2 separate regions of the Homo sapiens genome follow, and region 2 is linked to region 1. The links come from fine-mapping of genetic effects on gene expression. A gene starts in region 1. The other region holds a variant in brackets. All regions are shown on one strand. Distances are between the middles of the regions.

Evidence for each region. PIP is the estimated chance that this variant, and not a neighbour inherited with it, causes the effect.
Region 2: its variant is fine-mapped to the expression of EML4-AS1 in whole blood (TOPMed, PIP above 0.99).

What each region holds. Positions count from the first base shown.
Region 1 is chr2:42,164,078-42,175,891 of GRCh38, forward strand. EML4-AS1 (EML4 antisense RNA 1) reads right to left here and starts at 6,154. Exons shown (of 4, transcript NR_110584.1): 1 at 5,893-6,154. It overlaps EML4 (EMAP like 4), which reads left to right and starts at 5,276. Exons shown (of 23, transcript NM_019063.5): 1 at 5,276-5,559. The coding sequence starts at 5,535. RefSeq lists enhancers at 4,858-4,997, 5,010-5,662 and silencers at 5,078-5,127, 5,228-5,287.
Region 2 is chr2:42,137,210-42,149,023 of GRCh38, forward strand. EML4-AS1 (EML4 antisense RNA 1) reads right to left here. Exons shown (of 4, transcript NR_110584.1): 3 at 10,442-10,631; 4 at 5,226-6,135. Among named protein-coding and RNA genes, the nearest start is that of EML4, 26 kb to the right of the region's middle. RefSeq lists an enhancer at 3,631-4,428 and a silencer at 4,000-4,294. The variant C/G (reference allele first, on the strand shown) is at 5,776.

The sequences.
Region 1 (11,814 bases):
TCAAAGATGACCTCTGATTCCCTTCAGCTTCCCACAAAGGTTAATTCATCACTGTATTTTCTTTTCTCCAGTCACATCATTTCTTTAAGTTCCCATTTTAATATAATGCTGCCATTATTCTCTCCATCACTGGGAGCTGAACCTGGATAACCTGTTTTACTCCCTCCTCTTCCTTAGCTTCTGAGGCAATCAGTCCACCCAGCTCTGCGAGGGTTTTGTTTGTTGTTAATTCATGTTTTCCTTCACAAGATTTTTTTTTTCTTGGCGCTTTCTGCAGCTACTGCTTCACTGCAAGTCTCCTAATTGGATTCCCCACTTCCAGTGCCTCTTCCAATGTGTCCACCCGGTTTAATCTTCCTAAAGCAATGCTTTGATCATATCACTTTGCTGCTAAAACTGCATTGTTGATAGGCGTCTCAGTCTGGTGTTCAAGGATCTCCACAACAGAATCCCATTGAGCCCAAAAGGCAAACTGGTGCAGCGAAGAGTTTGATTTTCAGATGTAGATGGATATGGGTTCAAAACTTGATTTTCCCATTTTATAGTTTTATACTCTTGAGGCTCATTTTCCCTGTCTGAAAAATGGGGATAATGAAACCTACCACTTAAGGACCTTCATAAGTCAGAACTTTGAAAGTTGAAACGGTATTATATGTTGTATTTAGGTTGCAACATCAACCCACAGATGCTTATAATAGGCAATATTCAATTTCAGACCTGTCTGGTTCAAAACCTTAAGTAAGGCTGTCATCAGTGTGGTTTAACGCAGGCAGGTTAGGATCAGCATGCTACATGTTTTTGGGGCTAAGTGGCAATCTAACCACCAATTATGGCATTATTACTAATTTCAAACTGCTGACTTACAAATGACCTTTTGGAAATATTTTATTTGCAAGTAGAGAACTTCCTGTGTTATTAATTTTGAGAATTGAATTTCCTTGATTGGCTGCTTTCCACTCTAATATTTCTATTTAAAAGTATTTCCCTGCAGAATATCAATTTTGTAAGGGATTGTTATGAACTCTTCATGGAGAAAAATTTTACATTTATGATGGACACATGAAAATTATTAGCTATTATCTCTAAGGCTTGCGCAACATCCAGTAAATGTAGTAAAGCTATAACACATAAAAAGAAACTTTAAAGTTTGTTCCACAATCTCAACAAGTTCAAATCTCATTTCATGGCATAAATTCTGAATTAGCATTGGGAAAACTTAGCTCTGCAGGCAAGGCTAGTTGTCTTCTTTCTGTAGGTCATGGATGGCACCATGAGAAATGCCAAAATTAACCTCAATAGGCATTCGTTCACTCACTCATGCATCTATGCAGCAGGTCCTCCAAGTGAGGTATGGCTTGTGATCCCCACAGGATAGATTTCAGTCTCATAAGTTCTCACCAAGAATTTACAGCACTACTAATTGCTTGATTCTTTCCTGAAGTCAGCAAGTCTGGAAAGTCTTACGAGAGAGATAACCATCATGCCAAGATTGGTAAAACAGTTATTAAATAAGTATGATATTTTAAACCAGTCTCTACAGACACAGTTTATGAGTGTCTAAATATGCAGTGAAATATATTTTTTGTTTTTGCATTTTAATGTTTTCAAAAAATGAATACTTCTATGATTAAAATAAAATAAAAGTGAAATCCCCCATATCTCTCCTCTACCCTTTCCTTCTTCCACTTAATTTCATTTCTCAGAGGCAGCTACTTTTGACACTTTGGGGTATCTCCTCTCAAACTCCTTTTATTTCTCTTGCAATAATTTTGAAGTTCTCCCTAGGCATTCTTTATGGTTAGAAGCTAGAATAACATTGCCATTTAGCTTCTTATAGATTTTGGAATTCTTTTACACACTGCTTACATTAAACATATTATAAAAATGAAGAATCCCTTTTTTCCCCCACTCAGGTATTAACTCTGATTTTTTTCTATCAAATTTGTGCTTACATGGACTACAGGTTTATACAATCTATATAGTTCCATGACTATAGGGTTTCATTTTTTAAATAACATTCAAATAATGAAATAAAAGGAACTGAAGACACAGCATACTTAAAAAAAACCCTTAATTTTCCTTGGCATTTATTTTAAAATGTCTGCGGGAGAGAAAAGCAAGCAGACAAAAACAGTTTATAGTTACTTTTCAAGATCATCTAGCTAGTGAGAGTAAAACAAAGAAATTGAATAGGAATCTTATTTTTCTTCAAACGTTAGGTCAAGACTTTGACAATGTATCTTCACAAGTATTCTGAAACTCCTCCCACAACATACTAACCTTGACATAGAGGGGAAGGTAAGTATGCAGAGTCAAGATTCGATGTATAAAGAGAATGTTCTGGCCAGGCATGGTGGCTGAAGCCTGTAATCCCAGCACTTCAGGAGGCCAAGGCTAGGCGAATCACTTGAGGTGAGGAGTTCGAGACCAGCCTGGGCAACATGGCCAAACCCTGTCTCTACTAAAAATACAAAAATTAGCTGGGCATGGTGGTGCACAACTGTAATCCCAGCTACTTGGGAGGCTGAGGCATGCTAATTGCTTGAACCCGGGGAAGCGGAGGTTGCCGTGAGCTGAGATCGTGCCACTGCACTCCAGCCTGGGCAACAGAGTGAGACCCTGTTTCAAAAACCAAAACCATAAAGGGAATGTTCTAAGTTTTCATTATTTGATACAGCTATATTTAGCCTTTTCCAATAACTGGGATCCTGAAAAACGGCACATATTTTGCATTTGCCTGAATTAAGTTATACTTAAGGAGCTCAAAGGGGCAATGGAACTCCACATTGAAAATAATCTAAAGATAAATCCTTTGTTAAGGTGAATAACCAAAATAACCCTCCAGTAATTCGTAACTGTTTAGAACCTTAGTATTTGTGTGTGTGTTTGATAATGTTCAGCTATGGTTTCACTTTTGAAAGATGTATGTTAAATTTTATTTTATCATAGTAGTATTAGAGGCTTAGATTGCAAGATGTACTTTGATAAATATAAAACAAAAATTCTGGCTGCTTTAAAACACTCAGGCACTGGTTGTTGAAACAATGTATTCAGATTGACTAGTTTTCAGAATTCTTCTATGTTTGTTCATTATTCAATAAATATTTATCAAAAAGCTGTTCTGTAATATGCACTAAGTATATAATAGAGAGCAAAAACAGGTACAAAATAAGAGCAGCTAATACCTACTGAGCACTTATAACATATTGTGCCCTGTTTTAAGTGCTTTACATATATTACCTCATAGCATCCTCTCAAAAACTCTAAGAAGTAGAAGTGTTATCATCTCCATTTTGCAGTCAATAAAATGGAGGCACAGAGAGGTTAGGTAATTTGTCCAGTGTTTCATAGCTAGTACATGATGAGTTGGGATGTGAATCTGGGCAGCATGATTCCAGAGTCTGCACTCTTAACTGCTGGGATGTACTAACTCTCCTACATTTTAACAGCTTTCCTTGTAGTATACAGTATAATGAATGAGATGCTTATTGAATAAATCATTCAAGCAAATGAAAAATTTTAACTCTGATGAATGCCACGAAGGGGAGTGTGGCAGAAACCAGAGAGCTGTTACCAAAATATGTCTCTTTTCCTTCTGGATACACAGACTACATTCCTAGCCTCCCTTGCAGTCATGTGACCAAGTTCTGGCCAGTGGAATGTGGACAAAAGGGAGGTACACACTTCCAGGTCTGGACCATAAAACATATGTATACCAATATGCCAAGTTCTTATTCTTTTAATCGACCTAAGGCAGAGAGTGTGGCCTGAAGACACAAAGGAACAGCTGTCAGAATTGAGAACTTCTCAAACATTTACTTAGGCTTAATAGAAACTTATGCATATGAAAATGCCCATAGCAGAAGGAACATTGGGTAAATCATTTAAGTTTGAAGAGAAGGAAATTTTAGACACCGTTTAGTCTGTAACCTGAATTTATCTTGGCTGCGTTATGGCCAGTCTCCATATAGTATGGTATTCAGAAACAGGTCTTATATCCAAATAAGAAATGCAAAGTAATTTACATTTTTAGGGAAGATTTTTAAAGAGGCAACAAAGGGAGACGTATACCCCAAGAAGGTTTAACAATCCTTTCAATCATTTAATTCCTCTAAGTCTCTCTCATCATTACATATTTCTTGTCTCCCTTCTTGTTTGTCCCTCTCTCCTGCAACTCTGTGTAGTAGGACTCTGTTTTCCCCTAACTCAGCTTTTTATTATGTATTTATCAATTTATTATGTATAGATCAATTCAGTTCTTCAGTACCTTACAGCTCTTCTCTCTCTTACTCTAATCTGCACAACTGAGCCCCAGGAGGGACTTGACAAACCATGAGAAAGTCTTTAGAAGTATGGGAAATCGTGTTGGGGAAGGGAGGAAGAATATGAACGCTATGTATATTTACATGTTTTGGTTACATGTCCAGACAACCAATTTGCAAATGAATAAAGTGACGCCTAAATAAATTAGGTGATTTGACACTCTTGAGTCATACGGAGTTGGGCCTAGAACTCAGTGTTACTTCATTTGAAATAACCCTTATTATGGTTCCCTAGCAGGCCATCCTATAGCCTGCCATATATGGTCGTTTTGCACCCCTAGACGACAGAACGCTAGGGAGAGTAAGGAAGGCTGAGTTTTTGCTTCTACTAGGTTCGATGACCTTGGGCAGGTTGTCCTCTCTAAGGCTCTGTGTTTTTCTTCATAAGAAGGGTTAGACAAGATGAACTTTTGGGTCATGTCCAGCACTAAAATTCCTTGCTTCTGATCTGTCCCGGGCCCTGCGGCTGTGGCAGTGGTGGTATCGAGCTAGTCAAGAAGCTTCGCCCCTATTTGTCCCCCACCCTATTGGGGGAGAGGGAGAACCTCTCCCTCTTGGTTGCTTCTTTAGTGTCCTTGTAGGACCCACGTGGTGGTCATCTCCCGTCACGGGGGTCCAGTCTTGGCTCTGCGGGCTTCCCAGGGGCCACATAGGGAGAGGATCCTTCATGCATCAGAGTATCGCAGGCCAGAGTCTATGCCTTATCCCCACCTGTTTGGAACCAGCTTCCAAACCGTGGTCCCCAGCCTTCAGCAGGCCTACCGCGCAGGCGCAACCACCAGCCTGGCGCGAGGCGGACAAACGCCGAGGCCGAGGCAAGGTGAGAGGGCGGGGCTGGCAAGACCCCGCCTCCGTGGCGTCACGTGGGAGGCGGAGTCGGAAGTGTGACGGCGTGCGCGGGGCGGGGCTACTGCTGCGCGCGGGCGCGGGGGCGGGGCGGGGCGCGGCGCGGCGCGGCGCTCGCGGCTGCTGCCTGGGAGGGAGGCCGGGCAGGCGGCTGAGCGGCGCGGCTCTCAACGTGACGGGGAAGTGGTTCGGGCGGCCGCGGCTTACTACCCCAGGGCGAACGGACGGACGACGGAGGCGGGAGCCGGTAGCCGAGCCGGGCGACCTAGAGAACGAGCGGGTCAGGCTCAGCGTCGGCCACTCTGTCGGTCCGCTGAATGAAGTGCCCGCCCCTCTAAGCCCGGAGCCCGGCGCTTTCCCCGCAAGATGGACGGTTTCGCCGGCAGTCTCGGTGAGTACGGCTGGGGAGTCCTGCGTCTTCTGCGAAGGGTAGGAACTTTTTTCCTTCCGCACACAGCCCAGGCCCTGCCCTCCCGCCTGCCCCTCGGGGTGGCAGCGGCTCCACTGCACATGTTCCCTTCGAGGCTGCCGCCCCTCCGCGGACTCCGGTGGACTGAGGGCCCCTCCCCCATGTCCAACTCTCCTCTGTGTCAGACCCTCCTTTCCTCCCGGAGCCCCTTTCAGTGCGGGGCCCTCGTTCCCCCAAAGTGGGAACCCCTTCCTTCTCAGGCCCCCCGATAGCTGGCACACCCCTCCCCGTACACTCACGGCTCCCTCCACTTACCCCCCTTCAGAGTTGGGACATTTCTTCAAATCCAGGCTCCTCTTCAGGGTACAACCTTCCACCACCTTTCCACATACACGCCTCTCTTTCAGGGTGGGGATCGCCTTCACCCGAACAGAGGCTCCTTTTTAGGGGAGGGACCCTCATTCCCTCTTCAGGAAGGGGGCATCCCCCGCCCCCAAGTCTTCACTTTAGATTTGAAGGCGACTTTCCAGTATCCTTCAGAGTAGTAGGCAACTTCCTTTTCAATCCCTCCACTTCTCTGAGCATTTTGCAGTGGTGGAGAGACCTAGAAGCATCGGAGCATCATTTGCTTAATGCAGGAAAGGAAGAGGTGCATCTGTGTTGGGGGACCCTCTTTAAGAGTGAAAGCAGAAGTGTTTTCTGGTTCTGCATACATGCTGGGGAGAAGTGATTCTGCCCAATGAATCAATAGGAAAGGGGGCCTCTATCAGGGAAGGAAAGGATTCTCCATTTTTGGAAGATGTTGTCTTTGTGGAATGGAGAAAGGGAAGAGGTTATTAAATAGGCTGAAGTGCCTTTTCAGTGTTCCTTTCACCAGATGAAGGTAATCTTCTGGCTAGGAAAATCAAAACTCCAGGCTAGTATTCGCTGCCCTAGAAGCTGAATCTGGAATTACTATTCTTCGAGGCCATTGAAATCTAGTAAAAGATTAAGTTCAACTGTTAGAATGGTGAGAGAAACAGTTTCAGCTTTGGCTGATAACGCAGTTGTGTGATACCTACTGCTGGAACTGTATTTTGAGTTTTTTATGTGCAGGTAGCTTGTATTCAGACGCCTTTCTTTTACATTTCTTGATAATAAGTCTCTACTTGGTTAATGTTCACTGATCAGTGAGCAGTCTGGCCATAGGCCGTACTATATCCAGATAATATCGAGATGAGATGGATTTTTAAAATCTAAAGTAAAAAAGTAAGTCAAAGAGCAATGGGCCTATTATAGATATTAAATAGTAAAACCTATAATTTTGGCCTTCCCTTTTTCTTGGGCAGAAAAAATTGTCGTTATATTGCTTTCAGAGTGGAAATCCTAAAATAGGAGGCAACTGAGTGTTGTGTTACTCTTTCCTCCTCAAAGGCACCTGTTGTCCATTATCTAACCTTTGATGTCTTGTAATTCCTTACTTAGGTTGGGCTCTTTTTAGAGAGACATCCATTTTTCCCTGGTTCTTTTTTAGCTCCATGCGTTGGTTTATTCACAGTAAGTGTTGGACCGAAAAACTTGTCCTATATGTCCGCTGAAGGGCTGATCTTATACTAAAGTAAAAATTGAGTGTCTTCTTAGGGGATGTTGTGGAGAGCTGTGCTATCTTTATACTGTATTGGGTCCTCATCCTGTAGGAGTGGTGAGATCACTTTAACTTCTTTCGTGTTGGCTCTAAAGATTTCTGGAGGGCTTGTTAAAGCTTCATCTTCTGTAAGTGTTTAGGAGGAGTCTTTCTCACCAGTTGGGGCACTTAATGTTTATTTTCAAACATTGATTATGCTTTGTAATAGCTTTCTTCTTTCTTAACCAGTTTATGAGGCAAGTGATACAAAAGACCGAGAGATGAAGATGAATTGCAGTTGGGGCTCACACTTTTCATAAAGAGCGTCATTGTTGACCCTAATGTTGGATTTAAAAAATTCATTTGATGCCATGCTTTGGGTGGTATGTGATGAGACTTTCCTTTAGATATGGTGTTAATCAGGAGCAGAGGAGATATGCCTATCAGAGGAACCTGCATCTGCAGAGAGGGAAGGAAATGGTTCCTGGCAGTATTTCTGGAGCTGTTCTTGATGAAGATACTTCTCAGTGGGAGCTCTGTGCTTTCTCTTTCTGTCCCCCTTGCAAGAGTAAAACTAGGCCCCATCTTAATTGAAACCTTAAAGGGGTGGGGGAGGAGTAGTGCTGGTATATTTTACTGGTAGTCTTTAAGCGGAGCTTTGCTCAGCTCTTGCCAAATTGCTTGTTTCTGTTCTCTGCAGTTAATTAGCCTAGAGCTTAGAGTTACATTGATCTTTATTTTACCATCAGGAGAGCCATGAATATAAAGGCAAGCACTTCTACTCTAGTAGGTGTTTAAAAACTTTTTTTTTTTTTAAACAAGAAGTCAAAACGTGAAGTTCTTCTGGGGTTACAACTATTGAAAGCATTTATTCTCAAGGAAGTATGTGTGTATTTCCTTTTACATATTAGATAGATTCTTGAAAAATGGTGAAAAAACTACATTTTTATAAGCAGAAAAATTGAGTACTTTATAAACAGAATAATTTTAGAGAAGAGATTATTTCAGAGAATCCTATGGTGACTCATTTTGTGAAGTGAAAACTTAAAATTCAAACTGTACCCTTGATTGTTGCATGTTTAGATAAGAAATCCACTGTGTTATGTGCATTTTATAAGATGTCTAATGGCAATTAAGACTAGGTAGTGGTTTTTTAAATCATAGGAATGATAAGTGATTGGCCATTTTATAAATGCCACATTGAAGTTACATGGTACTGATTATGTTATCTTTGTTTTACATAAAAAACAAGTGAAGAATTCTTTTAATCTCCGCAGCTGATGAATTTCAGGCAACTTGGCTGGCAGGTGCTTGTACTCTGGAATTTCCCTTAGGTATTATTAATATATCTTTTAATCCACAAATTATGGTAACTTAAGGCAGCACTTTAGAAACCTTTTTTTTTTTAAACTTAGGAGAGAAAAGTACTCAATTACCTTGATGTGTTGCCTCTAAATCACTACATATAGATACCCATGTGCAAAATGTATATACTGTATGTATATTAAATCTCAGGTCTATGTGCAAAAGTGGGAAGCTATTCATACAGCTTTTACCGATTTTTTATAAGGCAGGGATTGGGTGCATTTCATGCTTAATCTTTTTAGAATCTCTTTCATAATAGAGGTTTAATTTTAAGACTTTTATCTTGGAATTAACCTAGAGATTAGTCTGTTTTCACTTGAAAGAAACCTTATACCTAACCAGTCAGCTTTAAATTTTTCTGCCTCAAAAGTTAAACAACAAAACTTAAAATCTTCTTCCCCCTAAGAAAAATCATAGTGAATGAAATTGTTGGATTAGGATCTATAAGAAACAACATTCTGGGTACAGGTTGTAAATGTGAACAAGTATAGCAGTATGCTTCAACTTATGGACTATTCAGAAATTAGTCTTTTTAACATCACATTGTTAGAACTGTGATTTCTCATCACAGATAATAGTCTTGCTTTCTTAAAGGAACAATGCTGTATATGATTTTCACATATTAATCTAAAGCATTCCTTATTTACATGAAAATGTTTTTCATGTAATATTTGGAGAGGTTTTTTTTTTAAACTTTTTTTATTGGTTGCCTCTTGAAGAGTTCAAGATAGACTCAAGTTGTGTAACCAGACATGAGTAGTAACTCTTAAATGGTTAGTAGAGCATCTTCAACATGAGTTAGCTAGAGTGTTTTTCAACATATGTATGGATTAACATCGAACATGGGCTAGCACTATGCTTGGTGGTTCTTATGGGAAAGACAAGTAAAAGACATGCTTTTTGCCCTTTAGGAGCTTACTGCCTGGTTTTTAAATAAGTACCATGACTAGGTGCAGTGGCTCACGCCTGTAGTCCCAGCACTTTGGGAGGCTGAGGTGGAAGGATCGATTGAGCCCAGTAGTTTGAGACCAGCCTGGGCAACATAGCAAGACCCTGTCTCTGCAAAAAAAACAAAAATAGGCATAGTGGCATGTGCCTGTAACCCCAGCTACTTGGGAGGCTGAGGCAGGAGGATCACTTGAGCACAGGAGTTGAAGGTTGCAGTGAGCTATGATTGTACCACTGCACTCCACTGGGCCACAGAGCAAACCTCTGCCTCTAAAAAATAAATAAATAAATAAAGTATGTACTGTATGTAGAGATGTTTATTATTAAGCCTAAGTACCAGAAATGGGGATGAAGGGAGGAAGCACCATTTAGAATGCTGTGCTATGTTTCAAGCAAGTAACTTCTGAGAGAACATTTGTTGATTGCTAGATTTATCTCTGCAGAGCTTGGCTTTTTAAAACAATGAAATAATTTAGCAGTTTAAATTCTAGGGAGTCTTTTTCTGTCTTATGTGTAAGTTGGAATAACATGTAGCAAAATACTGTATTTTGTATGTGGGAGTCCATTTCTGTAACATGTAAAACTTCAATATTCATAAGAAATTTTAGAAAAATATTTTGATTTTTAAAATAGATTCTAATACTTGTAAAAAGTTTAGGGAAAGAATCTACTTCATCTAGTATTACCTCAGTGTGGAAGATTCCCAAATCTATAGTATATTTCTTTGTGTGTGTGTGTCTGACGGAGTCTTGCTCTGTCTCCCAGGCTGGAGTACAATGGCACGATCTCAGCTCACTGCAACCTCTGCCTCCTGGGTTCAAGCGATTCTCCTGCCTCAGCCTCCTGAGTAGCTGGGATTACAGTTGTGTACCACCACACCTGGCTAATTTTTGTATTTTTAGTAGAGACAGGTTTTCACTATGTTGGCCAGGCTGGTCTCAAACCCCTGACCTCGGGTGATGGCCACGCACCTTGGCCTCCCAAAGTTCTGGGATTACAGGTGTGAGCCACTGTGCCTGACCCTGTAGTATATTTGTATGTCGGTATATGATCTCTTGTCCTTTAGCTGTCTTAGGCTTTTATAATACCTTAATTTTGCATGCTGTATATGATTTTTAAATATTATTTTAAAGCATTCCTTATTTACAGTTTACAAAGAGCTTTTATCTCATTTAATTTGCATACTAACCTTGGGAGATAAATTATTATACTTTTATAGGTGAAAAAGGTCTAGAAAGTGGTTTTTTTTTGTTTGTTTGTTTTTTGAGACAGAGTCTTGCTCTGTTGCCCAGGCTGGAGTGCAATGGCGCGATCTCGGCTCACTGCAGCCTCCGCCTCCCGGGTTTAGGCAGTTATCTGCCTCAGCCTCCCTAGTAGCTGGGATTACAGGTGCCCGCCAGCATGTCTGGCTAATTTTTGTATTTTTAGTAGAGACGGGGTTTCACCATCTTGGCCAGGCTGGTCTTGAACTCCTGACCTTGTGTGATCCACCCACCTTGGCCTCCCTTACAGGTGTGAGCCACCGTGCCTGGCCGTGTTTTTGTTTGTTTGTTTGTTTTTGAGACGGAGTCTTGCTCTATTGCCCAGGCTGGAGTGCAGTGGCACCATGTTGGCTCACTGCAGCCTCTGCCTCCCGTGTTCAAGCTATTCTCCTGCCTCAAGCCTCCCGAGTAGCTGGGACTACAGGCACTCACCACCACACCTGGCTAATTTTTTGTATTTTTAGTAGAGATGGGGTTTCACTGTGTTAGCCAGGATGGTTGTGATCGCCTGACCTTGTTATTCGCCTGCCTCGGCCTTCCAAAGTGCTGGCATTACAGACGTGAGCCACCGCACCTGGCCAAGAGTGTGTTATTTTTTTAAAAGGTTAAGTCCAGGTTTTTTCTTTTTTTGTATGGTTGGGAGTGTTTGTATCTATATTATTTTTATTTTATTTTATTTTGTTTTTTTGAGACAGAGTTTCTGTCGCCCAGGCTGGAGTACAGTGGCACAGTCTTGGCTCACTGCAACTTCTGCCTCCTGGATTCAAGCGATTCTTGTGCCTCAGCCTCCCGAGTAGCTGAGATGACAGGTGTGCACCACCGCACCCAGCTAATTTTTGTATTTTTAATAGAGAAGAGGTTTTGCCATATTGGCCAAGCTGGTCTTGAACTGCTGTCCTCAAGTGATCCATCCACCTCAGCCTCCCAAAGTGCTGGGATTAGAGGTGTGAGTCACCATGCCCAGCATCATATTATTTTTAAATAAAACACCATAGAAAGGAAAGAAGAATAGAAAAATAAATTATCTTTAGCCCATTTGTATGCAGCTGATGTTAACAT
Region 2 (11,814 bases), 27 kb before region 1:
TTTGAGGCCCAGGGGCTGTGGGTTGTTGATTAACACACATGTCCCTCTCCGTGCCCACCCATCCCCATCTCAGGTAACACCCCTAGGGCTTGGTGGCTAGCTGTGGCAAAATCATGGTGAGTCTGTAGATTATCAAAAATCTAAGCAGCAGGCCTGGGATGAGAGGTCAAGGCCAAAGGTACAAACCTCTGGCACGGGCTTTTGTCTTTTGTGTTTTCAATGGCAGTAGCTTCAATTTCCTTCCTGCTGGTGTGAAAAGGATGACTGGAGCAGGCAGGGCTGATCCAGGTGCAGGTGGGGAGGATCAAACAGCCTGCCCACTGCTCCCTCTCCTCTCCTCACTGGGGCTGAGGGAGTCTCCTGTGGGAGAGAGGGGGCCATCTTTCCTTCGTCCCCGAGGAGAGGTCAACCTGATTGTGCTGCCCTTGCTTGCCTAGGGCAGTTGCTTCTCGGGTTGGTAGATACTGGGCTTAGTGCTGGAATGTGGATACTGGACTCATTTCTGATTTTCTGGCTCTTCAGCAATGTTGACCCAGGCCCTCCCTATCACATGGGATTAGAGGAAGGAGGTTTAGGTAGAGTCATTTGTGGTTACTCAGCATCTGAACTCCCTTCACATGTTTAGGACATTTACCTTTTTATGAATCTTGGTGTCCTAAGAAAGAGCCCTAAGGACCAGATACTCTCTTATTTTATTTCATCTTATTTTATTTGAGACGGAGTCTTGCTTGGTCACCTAGGCTGGAGTGCAGTGGGGTGATCTCAGCTCACTGCAACCTCCACCTCCCGGGTTCAAGCAATTCTCCTGTCTCAGCCTCCTGAGTAGCTAGGGCTACAGGTGCCCACCATCACATCCGACTGATTTTTATATTTTTAGTAGAGATAAGGTTTCACCATATTGGTCAGGCTGGTCTCGAACTCCTGACCGTAGGTGATCACCCACCTTGGCTTCCCAAAGTGCTGGGATTACAGGCATGAGCCACCACGCCTGGCCCAGATACTCTCCTTTCTAGTCTCTTTTAAAGGTAGGATATGGACACATAACCGAGACTTGGCCAACAGGTGCAGCTGCTCCAGAAGGAATCAGAAATTACTGGCACCAACAAATACGGATCCCTTTTCACAGGAAACTGCAGGGCAGCAAAAATATACAAGCTCCCAGTGCAGTGGTGCTTATGGTGGTATCCAGTGTCTGCAGCTGAAGAGGGTGACAATGTAAGTTGTGGTCCAGCACTGGGCAGTGGCAACAGTGGTATCATCATCTTAGGCCCTGTGCTGTGATTGTACCTATAGCCTTGGCTGTGATCCTGAATTTCTGGTTCCTGTGTTTTTTGAGCCTATTTCTCTAGCCTTCCCAGTTTTTCTATGAGTTGCCCAATAGCATTTCAACAAATTATTTTTCTGTTTAAATCAATCAGAGTTGGTTTCTGTTGCTTGCAACTGAGAACCCTGATTCTGTCTAACTACAACTGGCTTCGGTCAGTCATTTGCAGATGCTTTTTCTCTTTCGCTGCCTGCATTCTTCATGCCTCTGCTCTCCTGGCAATTCCTCAAGTAATCCAGAAAAGGAGGAAAGAGCATGCAGAGAATTTGACCACAGCTGGGAAGTGAGCCAAGAGAACACTGAAGAACTTGACTATTAGATCTCCTACTTTGTTAGGTGGGGTGAATGCAATATTAATGAGACAGAAGGCTGTGAGCTGTCTGTCATTTTATTTTTTTATCTCTAACTTGGTTATACAATGATACAATTATTACCTATGGTACTTAAAGGCCTATGAAGGCATGGACCAAGTCTCCCTTGTTTGCCCCAGTATCTAGGTCATACTAGGTACTCAGTAAGTAGTAGTAGGGGATGATGATGGAAGTTTGAGAAACAGAATTCAGGGAAGAGAAGCTTAATATATCCTTAATGTCTTTAAAAAAAGAATTGTCTCATCTATGTGGGAGCTAAAGATTAAGGTCTGCAAGTCGAGCCAACACTGCGAATATGTGGTGGTGTTGATTGAGGAGCAAGAGCCTGGAGCTTTAGCCATCAGACATTCAAAAGCAGAAATGACATTCTCCCAGACAGACAGAGCCTAACTTGGGTCTAGCCCAGACAGGATGCCGGTCCATTTCTTCTTGGAAGGGGGCCCCAAGAATGCCTGCAAGCTGAATTGAGATGGATCTCCAAAAAGCATTTTGAATCAGTTTCAAATGCATTGGCAGTCTGGGGGAGTCAATGTGAGTCTAGATAACCAAGGGCAGGGTTTCAGCTCTCTTAAGCAGAAAATAACTTCAATGCATCTCTTTTTTTTTCTTTTTTTCTTTTTCTTTTTTTTTTTTTTTTGTTTTTCAGACAGAGTCTCACTCTGTCTCCCAGGCTGGAGTGCAGTGGTGCAATCTCAGCTCACTGCAATCTCCACCTCCCGGGTTCAAGCCATTCTCCTGCCTCAGCCTCCCAAGTAGGTGGGACTGTAGGCACCCACCACCACACCTGGCTAATTGCATCTCTTGTAGTAAGCTTAGTTTTGAGTAACACTCTCACCTGTCTCATCTGGATTTGGGTCCTTGAGGATGCATAGTTCCAAACTGACTCAGGTGCTAATTCTTGTTCATGGGATTAACTAATGAACCCTTACCTCAGGCAGGCCTCTTAATTACGTTGTTTAAGTTCTCATTTCCCAATTTTAAAATCCCTGGTTTCAAAATATAGGGTTTGAATTACTGTGCTCACCAATTTCTTATCTAAAATGTGACAATTCCTATTACTTCCCTTAAGGACAAGAGTATAGGCATGAGCCACCGCACCCGGCCTAGCAGTGGTAAATTTAAAAAAGGGAAAATAGGTCGAGTGCAGTGGCTCATGCCTGTAATCCTACCATTTTGGGAAGCCAACGTGGGCAGATCACTTGAGCCCAGGAGGTCGAGGCTGCCATGAGCCGAGATCACACCACTGCACTCCAGCCTAGGTGACAAAGTGAGATCCTGTCTCAAAAAAAAAAAAAAGATGGGAGGATGCTGACATCCTGTGACTTGTAAATACAATCTGACCTGGCACAATGGCTCACACCTCTAATCCCAGCACTTTGGGAGGCCGAGGCAGGCAGATCACATGAGGTCAGGAGTTCAAGACCAGCCTGCCAACATGGTGGAACCACGTCTCTACTAAAACAGGCATGCTGGTGTGTTTCTGTAGTCCCAGCTACTTGGGAGGCTGAGACATGAGAATCACTTGAACCCAAGAGGCAGAGGTTGCAGTGAGCCGAGACTGTGCCACTGCACTGCAGCCTGGGCAACAGAGCGAGACTCCATCTCAAAAAATAATAATAATAATTAAATTAAATAAACAAATAAATACAATCTATAACCAGTTGCAGAAACTGTAAACTGCTTTTTATGCTCAGCTTTCTTTGTTGCTGGAGCTGGATTGCCAGGGAACCTACTTCTAGCCCAGGCTTATCTTTAGATTCATATTGAACAGGAGAAGATGGTAAAGGGTAGCATGCCTCATACTGCCTGAGGCTGTTGGAGCAGAGAGCTATGAGATAGAACACACAGGCATATATTTTCTTTTAATTTTTTATGTACTTATTTATTTATTTTGAGATGGAGTCTCACTGTGTCACCAGGCTGGAGTGCAGTGGTGGGATCTCAGCTCACTGCAACCTCCACCTCCCCGGTTCAAGCAATTCTCCTGCCTCAGCCTCCCAAGTAATTGGGACTACAGGAGCACGCCACCACGCCCAGCTAATTTTTGTATTTTTAGTAGAGACGGTGTTTTACCATGTTGGCCAGGATGGTCTCAATCTCTTGACCTTGTGATCTGCTCGCCTTGGCCTCCCAAAGTGCTGGGATTACAGGCATGAGCCACCACGCCCAGCCACACAGGCATATATTTTAACTGTGCTGTCCAACTGGGTTTTAACATGTAGAATCTATGGCAAGTTGCTTTTGCTCAGTAAGGGTGCTGTGACTCTTTTTGTCCTGGGATTCAAGTGATAAGCAGATTTGAAGGTCATAAGTGACAGCAGACAGGATGGTCATCTTATTTCCTCTGCTTTCTCCCTGGAGAGGGGCCAGAGGACTCCAAAGAAAAGAGAGATGGGAATGGAAACAAACGAATCCCAGCAGGGGAGCAGGGAGGAGAGACGAAACGGCAGCCGACTTGAGAGCTCAGCTGCCAGCCAAAATCTGATGCTCTGCATTGCTCTGCATAAAGGAGCCCAGGCTTCCCAAATCCAGGCGCCCCAACATGATTGCAAAAGCCACACCCATCAGCCCACAGAAAGCCAACACTGCTGCAGAACCAGTGAGACACCTTGGGAGGCTGCCCGAGTTTCTGGAGATATCTGTGTAAAAGCTGCTTTCCTCCCTGGTGGATGCTTGAACCCCAGCAAGTGGTGGCGGACGGGACCCAGAGCTGCCATACCAAGATGGAAAAAAAAATTTTTAAGGAAAAGTTAATTTCAAGAATTATGTTCTCAGTTTTGTTGTAGGGCTAGTTGCCAATTCCTTTTCCCACTGGCAGCAGGCAGGGCTGACTGAGCCAGCACACAGAGGCTTCTCAATGAGCTTTGATGTCAACAAAGGTAGGCAGGGCAGGCCCCGGTGGAAAATTGTGAAGTCAGCAGAGTTATCTCCGGCACTCCTCCCTTCCCCTTGCTTCCCCTTTCTCCGCCCATTTCCCCCTCTCTCGGCTTCCAGCTTCTCATTTCCCAGGGGACCCTGTAATGTACGAAAACCCGATGTCATAAGATACGAGGGGCCGGCTTGTGGCTCCAGCTATCAAAGTCTGCTTTTTCTTCCCAAGTCTAAAACAAACAAAGGCATGCATTCCATACATTTCCTAAGAAAAGAGAGGGCACACAGAAACGTTGTCCTTCGTGTTCTCTCAGTTAAACCCCAAGAGTTTGGAGCCTCAAGTTTAAAGCTGTCCTCTTGCCTCCTGGGGTTTTAAGAAGATTCAAAAGTGCCTCAAACCAATACAGCTGCTTGGTTTATGGCTCAAATTTAAACCACAAATTATAAAATGATAAATTGCTGCTCAAGTCTCTTCCAGGAAAGACTATATTTTCAGATTAAGTTACAACCTCATGGACGTATGAGTGAGTCTAGCTGCTGACTAACTCTCACACTCATTTTCCCGCTGGAGATTTTTTTTTTTCTTCATGAACATTCACTGTTTCTAAATGCTTTAAACAAAGAAAATGACCGAAGGCAGGAAAAACATCAGGGACTTCTTAACCCATGGAGCTTTGTGCTTTATTATGTAATGGCTATTTTTATTTTATGAGAATCAAAGGAAGTTTAAGAAATATCTTTGTTCTTGAGCACTTACAGTAAGAAAGGGCTTCATGGGGGCGGCTACACGCACTTCAAACACTAGCTGGCATGTGAAGTGTGTAGTAAGTCAAAGCTGTTTTAGGGAATTTGGATGTTAAAGGATCTGTTCAGTGATTTGGGCAGGATTGCAACATCAATTACTGCATTTTGTTCCCATAAAAATAAATTCTTTGGAATTCTCTTATAGGGTCTGGTCCAGCAACAGAGAAGTATGACAGGTAATTAGGGTGCATGCATGCTTTGTTGTAATGAGTTCCCTGCCAGAGCTTTGGCAGGCAGGAGGTTAGGAGGAGAGATGAAATATGGACTTGTTTGAGGCAGCCATCTTGCCTCGCTGCAGGCTCCGTCACACAGACCTCATTTTGATCACCTGTGGCTGCAGGAGGCAGCTCCATAGTCCATCCTGCAGAGTACCTTGGTTATACAACTATGACCTGGTTTCTCCAA[C/G]GCCACTCCAGCCTTGAGGACCATGAGGCTGTGAGTCATAATCACCGTAGCATTTACTCCTAAATTCAACTCCTGCTTACTTTCCTCCTTGACTTTCCGTCCTCCCTTTCTTGGGCCACTCAGGTCCTTTTCTGATGTCATTTCACGCTATAGAGGCCCCCTGTAGCCACTGCAGGCCCCGCCATGGCTGCTCCTCTCTGCTTGTCTTGAAGTCTGTCCTCATTGCTGCTGCTTTTTCTGGGATACTTCAAATTGTGGAGAGAGTTCTTTTCCTGTGATTATAGCTCTTTCTTCCAATTTTGACTAGTCTGGCGTCTCTGTGATTATAGCTCATTAGGACTCCCAAGGCTAGAGAGGGCACTTAAAAAAAAAACAGTTGCCTTGTTTTTATTTTTTAAGATAACATTTATTATAACTTACTTTTGCAGAGCACTGTGAAAAAGAAAGTAATAATGGTCATTAATCCCACAGTCCAGATAACCCCTAACAGTATTTTTAAAAATAAAAGTAATACATACACAGGGGAAGAAAATTAAAACAGTAAAAAAAGGTATAAAAGGAAAAATACCTCTTCTGCCCTGAGTTTTTCCCCTAAAATATAACCAGTGTTACTATTTTTTTTGTGTGCATCCTTATTATGACATAGTTATGTATGTCCTCTAACAAAATTTTCCATGAGGGAGATCTTACTGTATTAATCATTCTGCATCTCATTATTTTCACCTTAAACACCATCTCAGAGATCTTTCAAACACGAGCTGCAGATATACTCTCTCTTTTTTTTTTTTTTTTTTTTGAGACAGTCTCTGTCGCCCAGGCTAGAGCGCAGTGGCGCGATCTTGGCTCTGCGACCTCTATCTCTCGGGTTCAAACAGTTCTCTGCCTCAGCCTCCTGAGTAGCTGGGATTACAGGTGCCTGTCACCACGCCCAGCTAATTTTTGTATTTTTAGTAGAGACGGGGTTTCACCATCTTGGCCAGGCTGGTCTTGAACTCCTGACCTCGTGATCCACCCACCTCAGCTTCCCAAAGTGCTGGGACTATAGGTGTGAGCCACAGTGCCCAGCCATACTCTCTACTTTTAATGTCTGCACAATCTTTGTTAGGAGAGAATGTGCCTTCCAAGTGAAAGGCACTCAGCTAACGTCATTCCTGGCCCCTTTCTGTCCCTTTACTTCCACCACCCCTTGAGTGCAGAGTGATTTATCTGATTATATAAATTGAACCTTTCAGGTTCAATTCTGCCCTTTTCTTCTTAGGATGGAGTTGCCTACCACTCCCCCAGAAGTGGGCAGAACTGGAGAATGTCTATCCAATTCGGGGTTTCCATAGTAGGAAGCCTATTTGTCTCTCAGTATGAGATAACACATGGTGCAGCATGCAAATTAGCCTTCATCAGAGAGATTTCTGCCTTCATCTGTCGTTTTCTCAGTTTGTTCAGATTCTGAACAGGGAAGAAGGCTGCTATGTATTGGGCCTTTTCAGAGTCCTCACATGTTATTCCTTATTTGTATGTATCAAAATGTATTTAATCAGTTTCCTTTTTTTTTTTTTTTCGAGACAAGGTCTTGCTTTGTCGCCCAGGCTGGAGTGCAGTGGCACAGTCTTGGCTCACTGCAGCCTCGACTTCCCAGGCTCAAATGATCCTCCCACCTCAGCCTCCCAAGTAGCTGGGACTACAGGCACATGTCACCCTACTCAGCTAATTTTTTTTGCCCAGGCTGGTCTTGAACTGCTGGGCTCAAGTGATCTGCCTGTCTCATCCTCCCAAAGTGCTGAGACTACAGGAGTGAGCCACCACACCCAACCAATCAGTTTCCTAATGATGGATGTTTAGGTGGTTTCCAGTTCATTGCTAGAACAAATAACACCTCAGTGAATATCTTTAAACGTATATCTTGGTAAACTTTTTGCAATCACATCAAAAAGTAGATTCCTGACCGGGCACAGTGGCTTACGCCTGTAATCCCAGCACTTTGGGAGGCTGAGGCTGGTAGATCACAAGGTCAGGAGTTCAAGACCAGCCTGGCCTAAATGGTGAAACCCTGTCTCTACTAAAAATAAATAAATAAATAAAAAATAAAAAGTAGATTCCTTACAGATATTGCTAGACCAAAGATGTGTCTTAGTGTCCCAAATAAAGATGGGAGAAAAAGATTACCCTCAACCTTAATATAAGTTGAAAAGGGGGTGCCTAGATAATATACTAATAATTATAATGGCAATAATTAACATTGATTTATTTCTTACTGTATGCCAGGTTCTGTGCTAAGCACTTTATGTATACTAATATTTTTAAATCCTCATAACAGCGTTATGAGAGTGACTATTATTATCTCAGGTGTTTTTTTTTTCTTTTTTTTTTTTTTTTTTGAGACGGAGTCTTGCTCTGGCCCCCAGGCTAGAGTGCAGTGGTGCAATCTCGGCTCACTGCAAGCTCCACCTCCTGGGTTCATGCCATTCTCCTGCCTCAGCCTCCCGAGTAGCTGGGACTACAGGCGCCCGCCACCACGCCCAGCTAATTTTTTGTATTTTTAGTAGAGACGGGGTTTCACCGTGTTAGCCAGGATGGTCTCGATCCCCTGACCTGGTGATCCACTCGCCTCAGCCTCCCAAAGTGCTGGGATTACAGGCGTGAGCCACTGCGCCTGGCCTATTATCTCAATTTTTTATAGTTGAGGATACAGAGATCAAAACTGTCAAATAACTAGCCCAAGATCACACAGCTAGTAACTAGCAGAGATGGAATTCAAGTCCATGTTTGTGCAATTTGAGAATTTATACCTCTAAGCACCAGACTAAAGGGTGTTCCCCATGGCACAGGGTGGTTAGTAGTCTGGTCTAGAATTTGAAAATGTGTGACGACCATTGGCTCAGATCTCAGCTCCCACATGCGTGTGTGTGTGTGTGTGTGTGTGTGTGTGTGTGTGTGTGTGTCTGTGTGTGTGTAATAATGATTAAGAACACAGAATCTGCAGTCAGACTATATGGGTTCAAATCCCACCTTTGTCTCTTATCAACTGTGGAATGACTACCTTAGTTTCCTCATCTGCAAAATGGAGACTTTTAAGAAGATTAGGTTATTTAATATTTGTAAAACACTAAGGAACACTGCCTGACATCAAGTAAATTTTTCATAAGTGTTTGTTATTCATTTATTTTACAATTATTTTTAATTCTAAAAGCAATATACAAATTCATATTTGTATAATACTCAATAATTCAAACAATATTCAGATATATATAATAATAAATGAAAGTCCCCCTCACCTTAAGCTTCTGCCACCACCTGACGCCACTGATTCCCATTCTTCCCTTTATAGATTAATGGTTAGTGTCTATGCCTTCAGACCTTGTTGTTTTTAACATGCATTTTTCTTTTTACGTATGTAGTTTTATTTGTACACAACTGAGATTATTCTACTGGGAGAGTAGCTTAGCATAGTGATTAATAAATGGACACTGGCGCAACTTTGTCTGAATTCAAGTCCCAGCTCATCTATCTACCCACTGTGTGACCTGAGACAAGTACCCTAACCTCTGAGACTCAGTTTTCTCATTAATTTCCACAATGAAAAATGACAAGTACCTGACTTATTATGGAGATTAAATGAGTTAATATACGTAGAGCTCTTAAAACAGTGCCCGACACAAAAAATATTCAGTAAATGTTAGTTCTTATAATTACTCCTACATGTGCTGTACTGGGACTTGCTCTGTCTCTTTAACAATATATCTTACAGGTTATCCCACAACAGCATATATAAAAATGCCTCATTTAAAAGCGGCTATAGGACAAGCAGGGTGGCTCATGCCTGTAATCCCAGAACTTTGGGAGGCTGAGGTGGGTGGACTGCTTTGAGCTCAGGAGTTCAAGACCAGCCTAGGCAACATGGTGAAACCTTGTCTCTCAAAAAAAATAAATAAACAAACAAACAAACAAACAAATTAGCCAGGCATGGTGGCACACACTGTAATCCCAGCTACTTGGGAGGCTGAGGCTGGAGAATCACTTAAACCTGGGAGGTGGAAGTTGCAGTGAGCCAAGATGGTGCCACGCACTCCAGCCTGAGTGACCCAGTAAGACCCTGTCTCAAGATTTAAAAAAAAAAAAAAAAAGTGGCTACATAGTGTTTCATAGTACAACCATATTGCAGTTTATTTAGATTTGCCCCAATTTGGGTTGTTTCTAGCATTTGTATTCTTTCTCATGTGAGAATGTAGAATTCTAGAGTGAATACCAGTCATCAGTATATTCCACTTTATTTAACAAACATATATGTCACTTACTACATGTCAATTTCCTAATCATCTTACTCATTTAATACTTATATTAACTCTATTAAAGTAGGGGCTATTTAATCCCTATATAACAGATGGGGAAATTGAGGCACTGGGTAGTTAAGTAACCTGCCCAGGATAGCATGGCCAGGAAGCTGGGGACTGGGATTCCAACCCAGGCAGTCTGGCTCCTGAGTCCATGCTCTTCACCACCACACTCAGAACCTCTCTTCTGTGTTCTAAAATCTGTGGCCTGCACTTCATTAGAACCCCAAGCCTCATCTCATCACAGTTTGCACCTATACTGTGGATGGGAATTCACCGTCTTTGGAATACACTTAGGAATATACAAGTAATGTAAGGGATAACATGATTGCTAAACCAACCTGATTCTTTGAACTACCAGAAGCGAGCCTGTCTAAGGACTGCTCCTGACAACAGCCAGCCAGCATTGAGAAAGCTCTTCAGCGATGATACCAGCACGTTCCTCCAGAGGCCCCGGGTCTGGTCTCTCAACTGTGCTTCTGTGCCACGCTGGCCCACTGAGCAAACTCACAATGCAGGGCAGCAGACAGCCTTAAAATAAACAAACATGTTTTTGTTGTGCCTGGTTAGGGAACAGTATCTATCCAATTAGGTAGTAGAAAACTCATGTAAATAATCTGTCCTTTTTTTTCAATTCCTGCTATGTGGGAGTCTTTCACAACTGACTTGGCCAACTCAAATTCCTAAAATGCTAAGGTTCAGAAAGTCTGGTCAAAATTTGCTAGTAAAATATGAAACTCTGTCTTCTCTGTCCTCTATCCCCCACCCCTACCCTCAAGCTACTTTAGCTTTCAAACATGTATGAAATGCTTTTTTCTTTAAAGATATGGGTGAGCTATTTCTTTTGGAGTATGTCCAGATGATCTGGCAAATGCACACTTGGCATTAGCCACAGGGAAGCACATTAAAAAAAAAAAACCAGAGGAGCAACAAATAAAATTAGGGCAGACTATGGGCCTACCCTTCATACAAATCAGAACATCTTTCCAAGTGGAAAACTTCATGAAACTCGGTGGGTTTAATTTTTTTTTCTTTTGCTTTGTTAATGGAAAAATATACATTCACAGACACATGTAATTTAATATTCTGGAAAGTTCTGACATTAATGATAAGAGTTTACATTTTAATTTCAAATATTATTGCTCATTCTAACATATTAAAACCTGCATTTTTCCTTTTATAAATATACTTCTATCTCTGGGTTGTGTCCTTATGAAAAGAAGTACCGAAAGCCAGTCTTTCACTCATCCCAAAGCTTAACTTTTGGCTCAAGGAGCTTCCTATCCTGTTCCAGCTGTGACATGTTGAAAGTAGACTTGGAAATTGTGGACAATTTGCTATACTCTATGAATCTTTGCTGTGGTTCTACTCCTTTGCATTTTAGGAAATAAGGTAGGAGACAGGGAGTTGTATCAGGCCATTCTTGCATTGCTATAAAGAAATACCTGAGACTGGGTAACTTATAAAGAAAACAGGTTTAATTAGCTCATGGTTCTGCAGGCTTTAAAGGAAACATCATGCTGGCATCTGCTGGGCTTCTGGTAAAGTCTCAGGGAGCTTTCAATCATGGCAGAAGACAAAGCGAGAGCAGGCACTTCACATGGCAAAAGCAGGAGGAAGAGAGAAAGAGAGAGAGTGGGAGGGTGGTGCCACACACTTTTACATAACCAGATCTCACAAGAACTCACTATCAGGAAGACAGCATCAGGCTATG